2 linked regions of the Homo sapiens genome follow. The protein of the gene in region 1 binds, or shares a complex with, the protein of each later gene. Each region holds a gene or a part of one and is shown in the gene's direction. Other genes may lie near its edges.

What was found.
Region 2: the proteins of ARHGAP1 (region 1) and CDC42 are in contact, whole or in part, in a crystal structure (PDB 1GRN), measured with the Homo sapiens proteins. Residues at the interface, in NP_004299.1 of Homo sapiens: Glu278, Gly279, Phe281, Arg282, Arg283, Ser284, Ala285, Asn286, Thr287, Gln288, Asn309, Glu310, Val316, Lys319, Arg323, Asn385, Lys386, Met387, Asn391, Val394, Val395, Pro398, Asn399, Trp402, Ala403, Lys404, Ala406, Ala407, Thr409, Leu410; in NP_001034891.1 of Homo sapiens: Asp11, Gly12, Ala13, Tyr32, Val33, Pro34, Val36, Phe37, Gly60, Gln61, Glu62, Asp63, Tyr64, Arg66, Leu67, Leu70, Ser88, Glu91, Asn92, Glu95, Lys96, Asn132.

Annotation. Positions count from the first base shown.
Region 1 is NC_000011.10:46,697,145-46,705,282, reverse strand, and holds the start of ARHGAP1 (rho GTPase-activating protein 1), read left to right. Parts: upstream 1-4,663; 5' UTR 4,664-4,732; intron 4,733-8,138. Other genes in the region: ZNF408 (zinc finger protein 408), read right to left, coding at 1-930, 2,040-2,299, 2,518-2,579, 3,607-3,884, 4,184-4,235. UniProt on the Homo sapiens protein: GTPase activator for the Rho, Rac and Cdc42 proteins, converting them to the putatively inactive GDP-bound state. Cdc42 seems to be the preferred substrate.
Region 2 is NC_000001.11:22,048,468-22,055,708, forward strand, and holds the start of CDC42 (cell division control protein 42 homolog isoform 1 precursor), read left to right. Parts: upstream 1-4,241; 5' UTR 4,242-4,275; intron 4,276-7,241. UniProt on the Homo sapiens protein: Plasma membrane-associated small GTPase which cycles between an active GTP-bound and an inactive GDP-bound state. In active state binds to a variety of effector proteins to regulate cellular responses. Involved in epithelial cell polarization processes.

The DNA of each region.
Region 1 (8,138 bases):
GTGGGCAGCGGTAAGGACGCTCCCCGGTGTGGAGCCGCAAATGCCCACGCAGGTTGCCCCGCTGACGAAACGCCCGGCCACAGTGCGGGCACAGGAAAGGCTTTTCTCCTGTATGGAGCCTCATATGGTTCCGCAGGGAGCCCTGGTTGGCCAGGGGCCGCCCACACACAGGGCATGGGCAAGGGGCAGGGGCAGCTGGCACCTGGTGGGTCTTGCGATGCAGCCGCAGGGAGGGCCGGCGGGCAAAGGCCTTGCCACACTGGTCACAAGCAAAGGGCCGGGCACCTGAATGTACCACCTGGTGCTCTTTGAGGTCTCGCTGGGTGCCATAGGCCTTGTCGCATTGTGGACAGGGGAAGGGCCGCACCCCACGGTGGCCCAGCATATGGGCTTTGAAGCTCTCCTCTGAGCTATAGCTCTTGCCACACTCAGTGCAAAGAAAGGGCTTGTGGCCCGTGTGCACAAATGCGTGCTTCTTTAGGTGGCACAGCTGTAGGAATGCCTTGCCACACTCTCCACACCGGTACCGTCGCCCCTGCTTTGGGGAGCTTCCTGCTGGGCCAGGAGGGCTCCGCGAGAGTGTAGGGAAGCCAGACTGCTGGGCTCCAGGCTCTGGGGTCTTTGCTCTGGGTGGGCACTGATCACTGGGGCTGTGTAACTTCTTGGCCAGGTAGCCATGCGGCTGGGTGCCCCTGGCAGAAGATGAGAAACTGGCTCCACTGCCATCTGGGTCCTGCTGGGTAGCCGAATTGCTCTGAAGTTCAGGTGGCATCTGTGCCTGGGCCGGGCATTCCTCATCCACGTCGCCATCCTGAAGCAATGGGCCAAGTGGCTGGCTATCCTTGGAAATTCGGTCCTGGGTTGGGAACTTAAGTCCAGGGCTCACCATATTCTCTGCCTGGATGCCAGAGGGTGACTGGGAACCAGGATCTGCAAGGCAAGGATGGGGTACTGGGTTTAGGGAGCTTCAATGCAGATGGTGTTACCAGGGAATTACAGGATCAGATGTTTTCTCCCACCCAGCCCCTGAGCCTTAGAGGGAGCAATGATACCAATCTCTTCCCTGGAGCATGGGGTGCACACTCCATTTATCTTCCTGTCCAGCCTTAAGCGCCTTTTGGAGAAGCACTCCTGAGAGCCATGGGGTCCCAGCCATCTGGATAATCACTAGAATAAGGCCATCCCAGATGGAGAATCCCCTTGTTCGCCCCTGGAGACACATATTTAGGATGTGATTCAAGACCCCTTCCAGCCGGGCACGGTGGCTCACACCTGTTAAGCCTAGCATCTTGGGAGGCAGAGACAGGCAGATCACTTGAGGCCAGGAGTTCGAGACCAGCCTGGCTGACATGGTGAAACCCCATCTCTACTAAAAATGCAAAAAAATTAGCTGAGGCTGAGGCAGGAGAATCACCTGAACCTGGGAGGCAGAGGTTGCAGCGAGCTGAGACCACGCCATTGCACTCCAGCCTGGGCGACAGAGTGAGACTCCATCTCAAAAAAAAAAAAAAACAACAACAACAACAACAACAACAACAAAACAAAACAAAACAAAAAAACCCCTTCCCACCTTAGCTCATCTGTAATATAAAAGAACCCCCACGCCAGAGAGAAGAAACATGGGAGGCTGGAAACCGTGTACATACAAAGCTTACTCTCTTTCTTACTATTCCAGGAAGCTCTTAGGAAGGTAAAAGTTGCAAATATCTATATTGTTATTCCAAAGAACAGACCCGTCGCTCTTCAACAGAAAGCAATGAATGACAATTCATAGTCTGAGACTGTCCCTTGCCTGAAAATTCTAGCCTTGCTGTATGTACCAACCCTAAGCTATTCAGTCATAATCCTTACCCAATACTAATCAAGCCCCACCCTCCTATCCCATGTTGAAAGATCCACCTTAAAACAGATTTTGAAAAGCTACTAAGACTCTATAGTGTCCTTCCTTACCGCAATGAGCCATAAACTCTGCTTTGTCTTATCAACAGGTTGTTTTGGTGGGGAAATTGCTGGGAAACCAGCATTTATTTGACACATACCTATGCAAGGTTCTGCTGCATCCTCCCCAGGGGAGGCCACTTCCTGCTGTACAGCAGACTCCACTTCTGTCACCACTGCTACAGCTGCCTCTTTGTCCAGCCCAGGCTGGGTGAGACTTGGGCCCTCAGAGGAAGGCTGGGGCCACAGCAGCAGTTCAGAGCCTGGCAGCACCAGCTGGTACACTTGCAGATGAAGCCTCTCGCTGATCCGCACTGGGGCCACATTTCCCTCACTCTCCAGCCTGCCCCGTTGTACCAAGCTGCAAAGCAAAGTAACAGCCAGCTAGGAGATGCTCACTATTCAAGTGGTCTTCCCCGAAAGCCCCAGTCCCCAAGCAGTCTGGGTCCTAAAGGACGCCGTGCCTTTGGAACATTCACTGCAAAAGAGCACTGAATAGGAAATGACAGTCAGCACCGGGTTCCATCCCAAACCACAACAGAAAACCTCAAAGGAACGACACACTCTCCTCTGACTTACCTAGTCCAGCCAGAACTCTGCTCACAGGCACACACGTCTCCCCATGGGCCTAATGACAGGTTCTGAAATAAACCAACAAAAGTCCTTCTCAAATGTGTTCGAGGGGTCGGGTAGGAATAAAAAAAGAAACTAGATGAAACTTTCCTGGGACAAATTTAAGATGAAACTCCTGGAAGGTTAGAAGCCTCTGGTTCTCCTCTAACAGGACAGTGCTGTCTGATTCTTCATTCAGTAAGGACCAAAAAGTCTGTCTCCTCACCTCCCTCCCAAGGGTATGGAGAATTACTAAATTGAACACATTACTGTCTTCCAGTGAGTACTAAACAGAAAAAGTAATAAGGAACACCAGCTTTTTAAAATGGTATTTATTGGGCCAGGCGCGGGGGCTCACACCTGTAATCTCAGCACTTTGGGAGGCCCAGGCAGGCGGATTACTTGAGGCCAGGAGTTTGAGACCAGCCTCACCAACATGGTGAAACCCTGTCTCTACTAAAAATACAAAAATTAGCTGGGTGTGGTGGTGCACATCTGTAATCCCAGCTACTCGGGAGGCTGAGGCATGAGAATCACTTGAACCTGGGAAGTGGAGGTTGCAATAAGGCGAGATCGTGCCACTGCACTCCAGCCTGGGCGACAAAGCAAGACTGTCTAAGAAAAAAGAAAAATAAATAAAATAAAATGGTACTTATTGTGCAGTGAAACCTTTTATCTTCACTATTTCATCAGCTCCTCCATATAATCCCAAGAGAGCCACTGCTTTGTTTCACAGATGAATTAAATGCGGCACGTAATTTAACCAGCTAGGTGACAAAGCTGGAATTTGATCCCATGCTTTCTTAATTCCAAAAACCTTAGCTCTTGACCTTCCTCACTCACTGCTGACACTGTATGATTCCAGCTTTCAACAACTTTTCAAACCTCGATTCTTTAACTACTGCTGCTGAGAGGAGACAGTCCTGAAGAGAAGGGACAAGACTATCTCCTATCTCTTGAAATACTCTCTTTCTTCAAATTGAAAAGCTGTCTAGCAATGTCCAAACCTCCCCTACATTTTCAAGGGCGGAGGGAAGTCGCTCTATCCTTCAATACCTCCTCCTGCCGTGGCTTTACTCCCTCGCCCTTCTCCTTGGAGGCAGACTCCTCTTCCAGCGGCCCCCACAGCAGGCCGGGCTGCAGGGGGTCCCCGACACACCAGACCCCCAAGCGCTGTTCCTTGGCGAGTGAGGGGCCAAGGGCCAAGCCCCGGGGAAGGCTCTTTAAAGCGAGGATGTCTCGGGTCGGCTCGGGTGGGACGTCTTTGAGGCCCTGCGTACAGCCTTCTCCGGAAGGGTTCCATCCTAAGTCCAGGCCCAGGCGCGGCTCGCGGGCTGCAGAGAGAAGGGAAGACAGTGAGGGAGCCACCCAAGAAGGTGGGAGGTGGGGAAAAGTGTGGGAGGAAACCGCAGGTCCAGGTGGGCCTGCGGAGCCCGAGGGACAGGTGAGGGCTCTAAGGAGGGCCCTGAAAGTTTTGAGGAGGCTCAAGGGCTCTTCAGAAGCCCCCAGCGACTCTGAGGGCACTGGAGGATCCTGGGATCCGGAGGAGAGAAGACTGAGGAGAAAGCTGACCACAGAGCGTCAGATCCACCTGGGCCAAGGTTGAGGGTCGCGGACATCGCAGGTCACTCACCGAGTTGCAGCGCCTTCTTCCCCTCCAAGAGCAGCTCCTCCGCCTCCTCCATTCCGGGTCAGAAAGCCTCCCTACGCCGGAAGTGAGCTTCCTCTTCTCAGCTCCTCCAGGAAACAGTCACGGACTTCCAAATTTTTTTCTCAGGAAAGAAGCCTCAGAGCTGGACCTCATTGGTGCACAGGACTGGGAGTTTGGGAGTACTGGGGAGGCAGAACTCTGTCCGAGAGCAATGCGAACCTCGGATTCCGGAGGTGCACCAGTGATTCGACTAGCTGGGAAAGCGGAACTAATTGTTCCAGCCATCTCTTTGGGAGCGACGAGTCGGACAGTTATGCTGTTACCTCCCCGAGGCAGGAACTTAGGCGGGCATGTGCAGGAAGTGGGCGGGGCTCCTGGAAAGGCCATGTTTGGGGCCGGAAGTGGGTTGGAGGTGTGGCGGAAATGGTTGGGGATAGAAGAGAGCGGGAGGGGGCGGTTCCCGTTCCACCGCGGAGCCGGATGTTTGCCGAGCCTTGACAGGCGTGGCAGAGGGAGCAGTGCCCGAGCGCGGTGAGCTGCTGGGCGCGGGGTCTCCCCGGGTGGGGATGGGGAAAGGAAAGGAGCTGGCCAGGTCGTCCGAAGGGATGGGGTCCGGATGGGGAGGACCGGAGCAGATCCGAGGAGGGGAACGGGGGTGGAACTGGGCTCAGAGGCCTGGCCTTCCTGCAGGGTTTCTGCCCCATTTTGGCGCCTGCAATAAGAGGACTTAATCATTTTCACTACCTTCTTCCTGCCTTCCCCAGGGCAGAGTCCAGGCCGGATCGCTGTCATCCAGCAAGCCGGCGGGAGGGGGAAATCTCCCAGATCTGATCTGGCAAAGCACTAAGAAGAAGAAATTTGGGGGAAGTGTTCCTCCTTGCCACTTATTAGGCCACGCTTTCAGTTCAACTTATTTATTTTTTTAAGACGGAGTTTCACTCTTATTGCCCAGGCTGGAGTCTCGGTTCACTGCAACCTCCGCCTCCCGGATTCAAGCGATTCTCCTGCCTCAGCCTCCTGAGTAGCTGGGATTACAGGCGTCCGCCACCACGCCCGGCTAATTTTTGTATTTTTAGTAGAGACAGGGTTTCACCATGTTGGCCAGGCTGGTCTCGAACTCCTGACCTCGTGATCCTCCCGCCCCCGCCTCCCAAAGTGCTGGGATTATAGACGTGAGCCACTGCGCCCGGCCTCAGTTCAACTTCTTAATCTGTGAAACAGGATAATTGCAAAACGTAACCTGGGCTTTGTAAACCGTGAAGCTCTATGCAAACATAATTGTAGTTGAGAGTTGTAATTGCTGTTGTATTGTGGTGGGATTTGCAACTGGGAGGCCGATTCCAACGTTGAGAATATGATTTCTTTTCTTTTTTTTTTTTTAGACGGAGTCTCACTCTGTCGCCCAGGCTGGAGTGCAGTGGCGTGATCTCGGCTCACTGCAACCTCCGCCTCCCGGGTTCAAGCGATTCTTCTGCCTCAGCCTCCCAGGTAGCTGGGAGTACAGGCGCGCGCCACCACACCCGGCTAATTTTTGTATTTTTAGTAGAGATGGGGTTTCACCATCTTGGCCAGGTTGGTCTCCAAATCCTGACCTTGTGATCCGCCCGCCTCGGCCTCCCAAAGTGCTGGGATTACAGCCGTGAACCACCGTGCCCGGCTGGTCCTCTCTTTCCTCACTGTAAAATGAGCTTAGTAGAACATGCCTCATCAGTGCTATCGTGAGGTTGAGTTTGTGTCCCCAGTTCATGGTCCTATATAGGCCCTCAACAAGTGTGGGTTCCCTTCTTTACTTAGGAGATGAATTAATTGGTTCATTCATTCAACAAATGATAGCATCTACTATATATCAGGTGTCATTCTGAATAGACCAGAAGTTCTTAAACAGTGATTCTCAGAAGGTGTATGAACCTCTTAAAATTGCATACATCTCCTAAGTTTTCTTAGGGAAAAAGTCCACACATGTTACCAATTTCAGAAAAGTCTACAACTTCCTAAAAGTGATTGCCTAAGGTGATCCTTAAGATTTTTGTAAAGGTTTACCTGCTGAGAATGGAAAAATTAATCTCAGAGTTGGGTGTATTTTGCACAGAGTAGAGCAGGCTTGTGGGTGGCTGGTGTCTTAAACAGGCAGGATACTTCATTTCTACTACTTGATGTTAGAATTTCCCTGTGCTAGCTTCCTCACCCTCCCACTGAATGGGAGTTTAACTTCCAGGCTCAGAAGTTAAACTGTGGGTTGGGGGTAGTGGGAGGGGCCAGTCTGACTGGGAGATGGGAACCACTGGGCTTAGTTATGCTGGGAAAGGAGGTTATGTGGGGGCGTTGAGGGAGGTCATGTCTGGAAGAACTGACAGCATAGAAGAGCAGTCACTGGAAAAGAGGTGAAGTTCAAGTTCAGCTCCCTTTTAGATGGTGTCCTTCTCCCTCCTTCACATCCACCCCAGCTCCCAGCTGCTCCTTTTTTTTTTTTTTTTGAAACAGAGTTTTGCTCTTTTGCCCAGGCTGGAGTGAAGTAGCTTGATCTCAGCTCACTGCAACCTCCACCCCCTGGGTTCAAGTGATTCTCCTGCCTCAGCCACCTGAGTAGCTGGGATTACAGGCACCCACCACCATGCCTGGCTATTTTTTTTTTTTGTACTTTTAGTAGAGATGGGGTTTCACCATGTTGGCAAGGCTGGTCTTGAACTCCTGACCTCTGGTGACCCACCCACCTTGGGCTCCCAAAGTGCTAGGATTACAGGCATGAGCCACCGTGCCCGGCCCCGGCTGCTCCTTCTAATCCTGTTGTTCACTGCAGCACAAAGTATTTCTGAACACTGGAGAATTATATTTCTGGGAGGCGCCATTGCCTCTACAGAGGAGGAAATTTAGGCCCAAGTAGGAAAAGGACTTGCTCAGCATCTTTGCAGCTCACTGGCTTAGGCAGGATGATAATCCAGCTCTCCATACTACCTCATCATTTCATGGCATCAGCACCTACTTTGTGCAGAAAGATGTCTCTGGGATAGCTGTAGGTGGGGCTGAAGGAGCCCCTGGTCCCTGGGCAGTGACAGGCTGAATAGAAAGGGTAGAGAGAAGGCTCTGGCCTGGAGGGGGTTGCTTTGAGCTGGATTCTGTCTTTATTACCCAGCTGGAGGTCGCTATGGGGAGCAGCTCCCACAGCCTCCTGGCTGGATGGCAGGAAGCACATGTAGATATTGAAGGGTTGAAGGGTTGAAGGGTTGAAGGCTGAAGGGGAGTGAGGGAGCTGGGCTTTGGCATCACTCAGAGAAATGCATTCCTGACCGTGAGGGATCATTCTTCTCTGTGTTCTTGGGAAGGGATTATATTTTGGTGGTAACCAGGGGTAGTGGATGAGGACAGGGGACAGGGAGAGGAAGAAGAGGGTTTTTTTGGGCTGTTTTCGCTGGTTGGCTTTGGCTTGGGAGCATGAAACAGCGTTACCACTCAATCCGTGTGGTTGCCCTGGTGATAGGGTGGCTGTTGCTAGGCACAGGGAGAGGGCTCACCATCCAGGGCCCTTGGCTGTGATGTGATGTGTGCAGGAGGTTGTCAAGTGGCCTCAGAGCCCAGAGTCTGTGGCTCTGGGATGGCAGCTCTCCCCCTCTTCTTCCTGCCCACCCCCAGGGCTTGTCTGCTCTCCTTATCTGCCCTGCTGATTCTCTGACCATATATGTCAGTTTTGGGGCTCCAGGAATGCAGCTGGACATGGAGCAGCCTCTTCCCTGGGGTTAGACTGAATAGGTTGAACTAAAAACTGCCCTCCCTCATGTGGGGAGCTTGTGGCAGGAGGGGGAGTTGCTGCCCATTAGGGCTGAGGGCAGAGGTGCCTACCCCCAGGCTGCATGCGGCTGCAGCCTTCTGGCCAGATTCCAGACCTACAGAAACCCAGCTTGGTGGTCGAGTCTGCCTTGTGCCTGCCGGAGCTGCTGTTCTG
Region 2 (7,241 bases), on another chromosome or scaffold:
TCGTTCAGGCAATAGAGGGAATTTATTGCTAATGTGACTGAAGATTGAAGCAAGACTGGATCTGATGTCTCATGCAATGCCACTGGGACTTGGTTTCATGTCTCCATCTCTCAGTTCTGTTTCCCCCTCTGTCTTGGTCTCATTCTCAGGCAGCATCTCTGCTTGCAGTGGGAAGCTGGCTGCCAGCAGTGCCACGATTACATCCTACTCTCAGCAAACAGAGATTCACTGAACTGAATAGTTGTGACCAAAGTTCCAGAATTAAATCTCATTGGGTCACATGCCTGTTGCTGAAATGGTGTGGCAACAGGGCTCTCTATAATGCTGTGATTGGCCAAGCCTGGGTCACGTGTCCATTCCCGCAACTAGAGATAGTGTCATCTCTAGAGCCACATGGATTGAGAGTTGGGGCAGGGGCTGCTCTAGGAGAAATGGAAGTGCTGTTACCAGAAGGAAGAATGGACACCGGAATGGTAGCCACCGGGAAGGGAGCCGGAGTCCCACAGGCTGTCCCTCCTGTTAACATGAGGCAGCTATAGCAGTGGGGCAGTAGCGGGGAGGCACTAGGAGGCTGGGGGCTGGGCCAGCAGTGAGGGACATGGTAGATTGGGTCAAGTAATAGTAACACCATTGCCACTGCTGTTTGGGGCTGTGAAAAGGTCTAGGAGGGTTCTTCTGACAAAAAACCTGACAACATAAAAGACATAGTGCTAAGTAAGTCCTTGTCCTCAGAATAAAGGCAGGAAAAGCTGAACAGTTGGGTGACACCCCATCAAGATATTGCTGCTACTGGAAAGGGCAGACGTTGTCTGGGGACATTCATGGGATTGTGAGACAGGATGAAGGAAAGGGCACTGCCAGCTGGACTTGTGAAGGGAAGAAACAACCATTTTCCCCTCAAGTTTAAAAAATGAAGCTTATGCATTTTTACAATAGTAATAAATTCACAATAGCCCAAAACAACCCAAATTCCAACAGTAGGAGTCTGGGTAAATATTGCAATGCCCGGAGAGTAAAATGCAGCCTTTACAAATGATGCTTTATTTGACATGGAAAGATGTTCACAATGTAGTTTTTTTGTTTTGTTTTGTTTTTGTATTTTTTGTAGAGATGGGTGGGGGCAGGTCTTGCTATGTTGCCCAGACTGGTCTTGAACTCCTGGGCTCAAGTGATCCACCCGCCTCGGCCTCCCAAAGTGTTAGGATTATAGGTGTGAGCCACATTAGAGGTAGGACTACAGCTGAAGCTTATCTTCCTGTTTTTTTTTTTTAGGTGGGGTTTTGTTCTTGTTGCCCAGGCTAGAGTGCAATGGCGCAATCTCGGCTCACTGCAACCTCTGCCTCCCAGGTTCCAGCGATTCTCCTGTCTCAGCCTCCCGAGTAGCTGCGAATACAAGTGCATGCCACACCCAGCTAATTTTTGTATTTTTAGTAGAGAAAGGGTTTCACCATGTTGGTCAGGCTAGTCTTGAACTCCTGACCTCAAGTGATCCGCCCACCTCGGCCTCCCGGAGTGCTGGAATTACAGGCGTGAGCCACCGCACCTGGCTTTTTTTTTTTTTTTTTTTTGAGACAGAGTTTCACTTTTTTGTCGCCTAGGCTGGAGTGCAATGGCATGATCTCGGGGTCACTGCAACCTCCGCCTCCTGGATTCAAATGATTCTCCTGCCTCAGCCTCCCAAGTAGCTGGGATTACAGGCACCTGCCACCACACCGAGCAAATTTTTGTGTGTGTGTTTTTTAGTACAGATGGGGTTTTACCATGTTGGTCAGGCTGGTCTTCAACTCCTGACCTCAGGTGATCCACCAGCCTCAGCCTCACAAAGTGCTGGGATTACAGATGTGAGCCACTGTGCCTGGCCTGAAGCTTATCTTCTAATTTCTCTATAATAAACCTGCTTGATAGTGTGGTAGTGTCATAGTCAACTAGAGCCAGCCTCCTGAGTGCAAGTCTCAGCTCTGCCACTGCTTGGCATGGCGGCTATGGACAAGTCTCTTAACACCTCTGAGCTTCAGTTCATGTAACCATAAAGTGGGGGTAACAGTTCTTAACTCATAGGGTGGCTGTGAGTATTAAATTAGCTACTACTACCTGCAAAGCTATTAGCCATACCTGCAGTAAACACTAAAAAATGTAGTTCTTATTTTTGGGTAATTAAAAAATCCAAAAGAGGGCTGGGTGCGGTGGCTTACACCTGTAATCGCAGCCCTTTGGGAGGCCAAGGCAGGTGGATCACAAAGTCATGAGTTCAAGACCAGCTTGGCCAATATGGTGAAACCCCGTCTCTACTAAAAATACAAAAATTAGCTGGGCATGGTGGTGGGCACCTGTAGTCTCAGCCACTTGGGAGGCTGAGGCAGGAGAATTGCTTGAACCCGGGAGGCGGAGATTGCAGTGAGCCGAGATCGAACCACTGCATTCCAGCCTGGGTGACAGAGCGAGACTCCGTCTCAAAAAAAAAAAAAAAATCCAAAAGAAAATATGACTATAAGTCAATATACTGGAATTAAGTGTCTTTGTTGGCCAAATAGCTGTGGCAGTAGACAATAAATGAGCTGTTATTAAGATAAGCAATTTTTTTTTATTTTTTTTGAGACAGAGTCTCGCTCTGTTGCCCAGGCTGGAGTGCAGTGGCGCGATCTTGGCTCACTGCAAGCTCCGCCTCCCGGGTTCACGCCATTCTCCTGCCTCAGCCTCTCGAGTAGCTATGACTACAGGAGCTCGCCACCACGCCCGGCTAATTTTTTTGTATTTTTAGTAGAGGCGGGGTTTCACCGTGTTAGCCAGGATGGTCTCGATCTCCTGACCTCGTGATCCGCCCGCCTTGGCCTCCCAAAGTGCTGCGATTACAGGCATGAGCCACCGTGCCCGGCCTAGGATAAGCAATTTAAGCGATTTTTCTCTAACATGGGGAAACATCTAAGAATAAGAGAGGGAAGTTCTCTATTTTCCTGAAGCTTTCATACTAGCAGAGAAGACAAATAATAGATACTGCGAAGATAGGATGATTGAAGAATGCAGTGATATAAATTTGGGGGAAGAGGAGGGAGGCAGAGCAAAGAAATTCAAGGCCTTGGCCAGACGTAATGTCTCACACCTTGTAATCCCAGCAGTTTGGGAGGCTGAGGCAGGCTGATAGCTTGTGTCCAGGAGTTCGAGACCAGCCTGGGCAATCCAGCAAAACCCTGTGTCTACAAAAAAATACAAAAATTAGCCAGGCATGGTGGCATGCGCCTGTGGTCCCAGCTACTTGGGAGGCTGAGGTGGGAGAATCGCCGGGACGTCGAGATTGCAGTGAGCTGAGATCGTGCCACTGCACTCCTGCCTGGGTGACAGAGCAAGAACGTCTCAAAGAAAAAACAACAACAACAACAACAACAACAACAACAAAAACACAAGGCCTGTGGTTGGGGGAAGGTTGTAACTCTAAAAAAGACCCATGTGGCTACAGCGAGGGACACTGGGTGTAGGTAGAGATAAGAAGAGTGATACTCAGTTCTCACATCACGGCGGACTGAATACAGGCCCGGGGAGTGAGAGACCATCCACCCCTGTGATCTGGGGCAAGTCACCAGCCCTTTCAGAGAAGCTTCCGTCTTCTCTGCAAAATGGGACAATACCTTGCTTCACAAGCTTGCAAGGATCAAAAGAACTGGTAGTGGGCCGGGCGCGGTGGTTCACGCCCGTAATCCCAGCACTTTGGGAGGTCGAGGCAGGTGGATCACTTACTTGAGGTCACGGGTTCGAGACCAGCCTGGGCAAAATGGTGAAACCCCGTGTCTGCTAAAAATACAAACATTAGCCTGGCGTGGTGGCAGGTGCCAGTGATCCCAGCTACTCGGGAGGCAGAGGCAGGAGGATCGCTTGAACCCAAGGGGTGGAGGTTGCAGTGAGCTGAGATCGCGCGCTGCACTCCAGTCTGGGCAACAGATCAAGACTGTCTCAGAAAAAACAAACAAAAAAGAACTGGTAGAGGAAGCGCTTTGCATACTATCGTTCACAGTATTATTACAAATACAACCATTAGGAAAACATGCAGAGCATAGCCCCGAACTCACGAGCTGCGCCGGCCCGCGCGTGCGCGACAGGCGGGCGGAGCCAGGGCAGTCCAGGCACCGCCTTGACCCGCCCCAGCCTCTTCCCCTTCCCTGTTCCTCCCACTTCCGCGGGCACCCAACTGTGCGTCTCCTGCGCGCTGACGTCAGGTGCGTGCCCCTGTCCGGCAGCCGAGGAGACCCCGCGCAGTGCTGCCAACGCCCCGGTGGAGAAGCTGAGGTGAGTGCGGGGCCCGAGGTTCCCCGCGGGAGCTGCCACCCTACCTTCCCATCCCCGCCGTCTCCGTCCTCTCCCAGTCCTCGGGGACACCCCGTCTGCGGGATCGTGGGGGGCCCGGGAGCACGGGTTGTGGGGGAGTGCCCGGCTCGCGCTGCGTCCTCCGGGCGGGCGCGGGTCCGCGTTCTGTGGGGGAGCCGGGGCGGGGGTCGCGGCCGGGGAGGCAGGGGGCGCCCGTCTGAGGAGGGGCGCGCGGCCGGGGCTCGGGGCGCGAGCGGGACCGGGCTGTCACCGGCAGCGGCGGAAGGAAGGGGGTCACACCCATCCTGGGCGCCCGGGCTCCCCTCCCCCCAGCCCGGCCCGGCGGGCTCCTAAGGGCGGCCGGGGGCCTCAGAGCGACTCGCGGGCGCTTGGGCCGGGCCGGGCGCCGGTCTTCCGTGCTGGCAGGCTGCGTTCCGTGCCCTGCGCTCCGGCCTGGACTTCCTGCTTCGCCGGGCGCCGCCGCGGACATTTTGCGGCGGGGGTGGGGGGGCGGGGGAGGGGAGTGGCGTTGCGGCCGCGGCGGGGCGGTGGCAGGAGGGCAGCTCGCTGGCTGCTCGCGGCGGTGCCTGTCCGAGCTCCCCTCCGCGCCGGCCGCGTCCTCTGGGCGGGGTGGCCCCGAGCCACGGCCTCCAGGCTGCTCTTCCTTTCGGAGGTCGAGTTCCTAGCATTTCCATCCGCTCCTCCAGCCCGCTCCCTGCCGGTTTAGCTGAAGCTTCCCTTTCGGGGAGTTACCTAACTACCTCCCGAAGCCGTCGTTCTGCTGCTTGGTTAATTCCTCTTATCGGGGGGGAATTTTCTTTGTTCGTTTGTTTTTCCTCCCCTTTAAGTCCAAGATAAATGTAGTGTGGAAGATTACGTCATCGCGGTATAAGGAGTGAGACTTAACTCCTACAAGTCAGGGACTTAAATTCAAACAGCATTTTGCAGCCTTAGTCGGTCACCCAGTGGCTTATCCTGCCTGCTTCCCAACACGTCGTATTCACAGATGATGTTTTGAAAGCTTGTTACTTGTGTTCATGACCGCCTTCAGTGCACCTAAAAGCTAGGAAGGTTTAAAATCCCAGGATTAGTTTGTGTCAGGGAATAAAGTGTAAGACAACACCGTCCACGGCCCCTTGCGTGGCATTAACTTTAAATAGAGGTCCCTTTGACTATACTAGAATGAGGTGGGTTTATTTGTGGGAACACTTTTCGGTCCAAAATGACTTTCCCAGACTGTTTATTCTCCTTTATGACTTACTGCATGCTGGGAATCTCCCTAGGTTGATTCAAGTGCACTTTTTGTGGTGAAGTTGTGTTGAAAAGAGGATCAGTTTATGCCTGATCTATGCTAGACATTTTAGTTTTGTTATTAAAAACGAGACTTCGATCTTTAAGCAAAAAACTTAATATTTTCATAATTTTGAGATCACAATTTTTATTTTTTTTGAGACAGGGTCTCAAAGACGTTACTAAATATAATGGATATTGCACTCCCAGGCTGCAGTGCAGTGGCGCGATCTTGGCCCACCGCAGCCTCCGCCTCCCGGGGTCAAGTGAGCCTCCCACCTCAGCCTCCCGAGTAGCTGGTACTGCAGGCATGTACCACCATGCCCCGCTAATTTTTGTATTTTTTGTACAGACAGGGTTTCGCCATGTTGCCCAGGCTGGTCTCGGACTCCTGGGGTCAAGCAGAGATCACAATTTTTGTTCCCTAGGGTGTTTACATTCTAAATTTTGTATCCTTCCGCGACTGCAATAGTATCACACAAAAATGTTGACTCTGTAAAGCAAATGAGATCCAATTGTGTAATGCATTGTTGTAAAGATAATTCATGTCGAAACAAGTGCTTTCCCACTGTTTCTCATTTCTATAGAGAACAGATTGGTAAACACTTAAAAGGAGTGTAGGTTCAAGGCAGCTTTCTGTAGTGTGTAGGCATTACAGACCATTGGATAGGTGTGGAACTTGAATCTTCTGAAATACATTTGTTAGCCTTGATGTAATATTTTAGGCATATAAAATTGGAACACATCTGCCTTATTTTCTTGAGCTTTCTATTTTTAATAATTTTAAATAATATCAATTTGTATCTTTCCTTTTAGAAAGTAACAGTAGTTTGAATTTATGTATATATATATATATATATATATATATATATTTTTTTTTTTTTTTTTTTTTTTTTTTTTTTTTTTTTTTTTTTTTTTTTTGAGAAGGAGTCTCGCTCTGTCTCCCAGGCTGGAGTGCAGTGGCGCAATCTCAGCTCACTGCAAGCTCCGCCTCCCAGGTTCACACCATTCTCCTGCCTCAGCCTCCCGAACAGCTGGGACTACAGGCGCCCGCCACCACGCCCGGCTAATTTTTTGTATTTTTAGTAGAGACGGGGTTTCACGGTGTTAGCCAGGATAGTCTTGATCTCCTGACCTCGTGATCCGCCCGCCTCGTCCCCGCAAAGTGCTGAGATTACAGGCGTGAGCCACCGTGCCCGGCCTGAATTTATAGTTTTTATACTGAGATGGAGATAAGAGTTTGGTAATCAACTAAGTATTGAATGAGCTCGTTTTCAGTAATTTCTTCAAGACCAGAAAGGTATCACATCCTCTGTTTATACTCTTAAAATGTTTTCATGTTACAACCAATACCTGTCCGTATTAAACTTAATTTTTTGGGAATCTAAGGCAGATGTTATAGCCTAGAGTAGTATAGGGAGTTAAAAAAAAAATTGGTGATTTTTTTTTTTTTTTTGGAGACAGGGTCTTACTCTGTCGCCCAGGCTAGAGTGCAGTGGTGTGATCACAGCTCACTGCAGCCTCGGCCTCCCAGGCTCAACTGATCCTTCCACCTCAGCCTCTGCAGTAGCTGGGACTACGGTGCATGCAACCAGACCCGGCTAATTTTGGTATCTTTTGTAGAGATCGGGTTTCCTCATGTTGTCCAGGCTGATCTG